Linked DNA regions of Homo sapiens: region 1 is linked to region 2. The links come from fine-mapping of genetic effects on gene expression. A gene starts in region 2. The other region holds a variant in brackets. All regions are shown on one strand. Distances are from middle to middle. Region 1 overlaps SYNE1 (spectrin repeat containing nuclear envelope protein 1). Region 2 holds the start of SYNE1 (spectrin repeat containing nuclear envelope protein 1).

Region 1 (2,906 bases), 150 kb before region 2:
GTAGAGCCAAAAATCCGTATGTCTAAGTTCCCAGGTGAATCTGATGCTGCTGGTGAAGGAATCATATATTGAGAACACTTCTCTATGATCCTGTGACAACCTCAGCGCTAATATTCACCCAAATGCATTATATAAAGTCAGCCCTCTGTTTTCTTAGATTCAATCAATAGCAGATTGAAAATATTCAGAAAATAAACAATAAAAATAACAATACAGCAATAAAGATAATACAAACAAAATACAACACAGTATAACAGCTATTTAAATAGCATTTACTTTGTGTTAGGTATTATACATAATCTACAGATTAAAGTATATGGGAGGATATGTGTAGGTTATATGCAAATACTACACTATTTTATATCAGGAACCTGAGCATCATAAATTTTGCTATCTTGGGGGTCCTGGAACCAATCACTTGTGAATATCTAGGAACAACTACACAAAATCCTTGTCAGGCCTCTGAGCCCAAGTCTGCACGTATATATCCAGATGGCCTGAGGCAACTGAAGAACCACAAAATAAGTGAAAATGGCTGGTTCCTGCCTTAACCGATGACATTCCACCATTGTGATTTGTTCCTGCCCCATCCTAACTGATCAATTGATCTTGTGAAATTCTTTCTCTGGACAATGAATCTCGGAAGCTCCCCATTCAGCACCTTGTAACCCCTGCCTCTGTCTGCAAGAGAAAAACCCCCTTTGACTGTAATTTTCCACTACCCTCCCAAATCCTATAAAACTGCCCCACCCCTATCTACCTTTTTCGGACTCAGTCTGCCTGCACTTGGGTGATTAAAAAGCTTTATTGCTCACACAAAGCCTGTTTGTTGGGCTCTTCACACGGACACACGTGACATTTGGTGCTGAAGATCTGGGACAGGGGGATTCCTTCAGGAGACCAGTCCCCTGTCCTCACCCTCACTCCATGAGAAGATCCACCTATGACCTTGGGTCCTCAGGCCAGCCCAAGGAACATCTTACCAATTTCAAATCGGGCAAGCGGTCTTTTCACTCTCTTCTCCAGCTTCTCTCGCTACCTTTCAATCTCCCTGTCCTTCCAATTCCAGTTCTTTTTCCTCTCTAATAGAGACAAAGGAGACACATTTTATCTGTGGACACAAAACTCCAGCGTGGGTCACGGACTTGGGAAGACAGTCTTCCCTTGGTGTTTAATCACCGTGTGGATGCCTGCCCTGATCATTCACCCACATTCCA[C/T]TGGTGTCTGATCACTGTGGGGATGCCTGCCTGATTATTCACCCACATTCCACTAGTGTCTGATCACTGTGGGGATGCCTGCCTGATTATTCACCCACATTCCACTAGTGTCTGATCACTGTGGGGATGCCTGCCTGATTATTCACCCACATTCCACTAGTGTCTGATCACTGTGGGGACGCCTGCCTTGGTCATTCACCCACATTCCCTTGGTGGCAAATCAATTGTGGAGACGCCTGCTTTGGCTGCTCACCCACATTACAGCCCAGGGCTGCTCACCACCCCCTTCTCTGTGTCTCTACCTTTCTCTTTAAACTTACCTCCTTCACTATGGGCAAGCTTCCACCCTCCATTCCCCCTTCTTCTCCCTTAGCCTGTGTTCTCAAGAACTTAAAACCTCTTCATCTCACGCCTGACCTAAAACCTTACTGCCTTATTTTCTTCTGCAACACTGCTTGGCCCCAATACAAACTCAACAATGGTTCTAAATGGCCAGAAAACAGCACTTTTGATTTCTCCATCTTACAAGACCTGGATGATTTTTCTTGAAAAATGTGCAAATGGTCTGAGATGCCTGACATCCAGGCATTCTTTTACACATCAGTCCCTCCCTAGTCTCTGCTCCCAGTGCGACTCATCACAAATCTTCTTTCTCTCCTGTCTGTTCCTTCAGTCTCCACCCCAAGCTCTGAGTCCTTTGAATCCTCCTTTTCTATGGACCCATCTGACCTCTCCCCTCCTCACCAGGCTGCTCCTCACCAGGCTGAGCCAGGTCCTAATTCTTCCTCAGCCTCCACTCCCCAGCCCTATAATCCTTCTATCACCTCCCCCTCCTCCCACCCTGTCTGGCTTATAGTTTTGTTCCACGACTAGCCCTCCCCAACCTGCCCAACGATTTCCTCTTACAGAGGTGGCTGCAGCTCAAGGCAGAGTCAAGGTTAACCCTCCTTTTTCTTTATCTGACCTCTCTCAAATCAGTTAGTGTTCAGGCTCTTTTTCGTCAAGTATAAAAGCCCAGCCCAGTTCATGGCCTGTTTGGCAACAACCCTTAGATGCTTTGCCGCCCTAGACCCAGAGGGGCCAGAAGGCCGTCCTATTCTCAATATGCATTTTACTACTCAACCCACTCCCAACATTAGAAAAAGCTCCAAAAATTAGATTCTGGCCCTCAAACCCCACAACAAGACTTAATCAATCTCGCCTTCAAGGTGTACAATAATAGAGAAGAGTCAGCCAAGCGGCAACTTATTTCTGAGTTGCAATTACTTGCCTCCACTGTGAGAGAAACCCCAGCCACATCTCCAGCACACAAGAACTTCAAAATACCTAAACCACAGTGGCCAGGCATTCCTCCAGGACCTTCTCCCCCAGGATCTTGCTTCAAGTGCTGGAAATCTGGCCACTGGGCCAAGGAATGACCACAGCCTGGGATTCCTCCTAAGCCATGTCCCACTTGTGCAGGAACCCACTGGAAATAGGACTGTCCAACTTGCCTGGAAGCCACTCCCAGAGCCCCTGGAACTCTGGCCCAAGGCTCTCTGACTGACTCCTTCCCAGATCTTCTCAGCTTAGCGGCTGAAGACTGACACAGCCCAATCACCTCGGAAGCCTCCTGGACCATCACAGATGCTTTAGGTAACTCTTAGAGTGGAGTGTAAGTCCATACCCTTCTTAATCAATACGGAGGCT
Region 2 (2,906 bases):
CTTCCAGCATCCAAAGTCTGGGATCCCAGTCAGCACACCCAGCCTGCCTTCCCAAGGGGCTTCTTCCTGTGCGGCTGATGGCTGCTTCGTTTTGCACGGATGCCTGCCCGTTGGGATGCACCTGGCCGCCTGTGCACCACCATTTCCCAGAACTCCTCCGCCAGCAATGCAAGATCTCTCTATGTGAAACGTATCTTTATAAAGAGGAGACGAAAGTTCTCTTGCCCTCTAGTGCAGGCTCTGCCGGGAAGCAACTGCACCATGACAGCGCCGCTGGAGTCTGACGCGCCAGGGCCTCCGCGCAGCCTTCAAGCCATTTCCCTCCCCCAGCCCTTCCTAAAATAGTCAGGGGGTGGAGGAAGGGAGGCTCCTAGAATCTGTTCAACGCCCTACCTCTCCCATCTGATAGTAGCAACAGTACCGACCATCACAATAAGAGGCTGGCTGCCTTTTGCTTCTGCACCATTGGAGCCCAGGAGATGTGCCACAAGCGGAAATGACAACTCAGAGAGGGGGATATTAATAGGGACATCTACGTACGAGATGCAAAGAGGCTCCCCAACCTCCTAGTCTCCTTATCTATGAGTATCGCACACGTACACACATCACTGCCACCACCCCCTCCCATCAAGCACGCAGAGCCCCAGCGTGCAGGCACAAACTTGCTGACAATTTGTCTGCAATGTGTTCGTCTTGCACCTCTCTCTCCTCTCCCTGTCTCTGTCTCTCCCTGTCTCCCAGTCTCTGTCTTTCCTTTTACCTTCTCTCTCGGCCTCGTTCAGTTTCCCAGCAGCAAGGCGAAGCGAGCGAACGCTTCCTCCCGGCTCTCTGCGCCCAGGCTCGGCGGGACCCCGGGGATGCGCGGCTGTCCGCCCGCCCTGTCGCCGGGATCGGGCGCGGTCTGCAGGACTGCGGGAGCCCAGCCGCCCTGGTGACAGAGGACAACAATCTCAGCCCGCTGCGGCCGGCGGCCGCGGCCCGGCGCCCGCGCTCACCCTGGCTGGCTCGCCCACACTCACTCCCGCGCCGGGCTGCTCAGCCGCGCTCCCCGCCCTCCGCGACCGGTTCCTCCTCCCGGCTGCTCGCTGGGGGGTGAGGCCTCCCCCTTCGCCCTCCCCCACGCATCTACTGCTCCTGTCGGGAAGGAAGGTCGCCCAGGCCGGTTCAGCCTCTGGGCAGGGTCCCTGCACCGCCCTGGCCCGCCACACCCCCTCCCCGGCTCCGTGCCCCGCGCCCCGCGCCCGGCTCCGGGATGCGCCGGTGCCTGGAAGAGCTGGGGGCGGGGACCCGGAGGCTCGCAGGCTTCCCTACCTCCTGGAGATGCACGGCCTTGGGCGTTTCTCCGCAGCTGCAAAGCTGTGCTGTGACCCACCCGCTCAGCGAGCCTTTATACCGGGACCACCTCCCGGGGGTCGAGGTGGGAAGGAAATGTCCCTGAGAGCCGGGACGCGCTGCCTCCGCTGCCTGGAGGAGCTGCGCTGTCCTGCCAGCTAACTTTTGCCCACGGTTTCCACTGCCCGGGTGACCTTTCTGAGCGGAACCTATCCTGAAAGGCTGGGAGGTTCCCTGATGGTCCCAGGAAGGGCGTGATGCAGAGCAAAGAGCAAAACCCGCTGGCTCCTTTTTCATCAACTTCCGAAAGATCCTAAATCGTTTTGGCTGCCAAGTCAGTAGCAAATAACTTAATTTGAGGGAGACTGGTCAGGCTTTATAGATCTTTTTTAATGTTATGTATAAAGTTTAGACTTCTTGAGAAAGCGCTTGACATCTTTAATTCTTGACTGTTTATTATGATGATTCTAAAAACCACTTTTAGGTTCTTCAGGTGCACTGTATGCACCCTGTACATTGCGGAGCCATTTGTATCTTTGGCCACAAGTCCTTCTCGTGGTGTAAGAGATCTTGGTGTTGCCTGGTAGCATTCAGGAGAATTTATTTTGTTGTGGTTTTATGGTATCCAGGCAAAGTCAAACACAGTCTCTCTTCACCAACAGTGAAGTCCAAGTCCAACAGGATGATTGCAGCTAAAATAATCGAAGCCATGTTGCAATAATCTTAAAAGTAATAATCCCCCCCTTGAATCTCCAATCTGAACAAAACAGTCATTTATCCTCTAAATTTGCTGAAAGGAAGGAGCAGTTTATAAAGTAGATGAAGTTTCTCTTTGCTGCCTGCCTTTCCCTTACCTGCTGCCAACATTCCCACTGCCTAGCTTTCCATTTTCTTCAAATTCTCCTTCTTCTGGATCGTGTCAAAATAATAACATCTGAAACAAATCTGGTAAACCAATCTGATGTGTTCCTCTTCTTTGTGCTGACTTTTGTTTTTTTTTAGAGAGAGAAACCAAACAATGGATCTCTATTTGCAGAACTTGCTACCTCCAAAAGTTGGGCCTGGAGGAGGAGTGTTTGGGATCACTCTCAATGTATGCCCTGCCTCTGCCTGAGGGCAACAATCCTGGGGCACCCCCAGAGCCCCTTGTGGAGACAACCACCAGAGCATAATTATTCCAGGTCAGCCCTCTGTGCCCAGTGGCCACAAAATGGGGTCCAGATTTCCAGGCTTGCCACTCAGAAGAAACAGATCAGAATGGCTCAGCTCACCCTCTCAATCCCTACCTTCATAGAATCAATCCACCCTGCCGGCTTTTGAAGATGGGTAGAAAGTTATTGTGCCAACTTTGCCATTCTTTTTGTTTGTTTGTTTGTTTGAGATGGAGTTTCGCTCTTGTTCCCCAGGCTGGGGTGCAATGGTGCAATCTCGGCTCACTGCAACCTCCGCCTCCCAGGTTCAAGCAATTATCCTGCCTCAGCCTCCTGAGTAGCTGAGATTACAGGGATGCGTCACCACACCTGGCTAATTTTGTATTTTTAGTAGAGACAGGGTTCCTTCATGTTGGTCAGGCT

What was found.
Region 1: its variant is fine-mapped to the expression of SYNE1 in fibroblasts (GTEx, PIP 0.95).

The regions. Positions count from the first base shown.
Region 1 is chr6:152,489,887-152,492,792 of GRCh38, forward strand. All of the region lies in intron 11 of SYNE1 (spectrin repeat containing nuclear envelope protein 1), which reads right to left. Among named protein-coding and RNA genes, the nearest start is that of SYNE1-AS2, 89 kb to the left of the region's middle. RefSeq lists an enhancer at 663-1,862. The variant C/T (reference allele first, on the strand shown) is at 1,218.
Region 2 is chr6:152,635,878-152,638,783 of GRCh38, forward strand. SYNE1 (spectrin repeat containing nuclear envelope protein 1) reads right to left here and starts at 1,485. Exons shown (of 146, transcript NM_182961.4): 1 at 1,312-1,485; 2 at 761-928.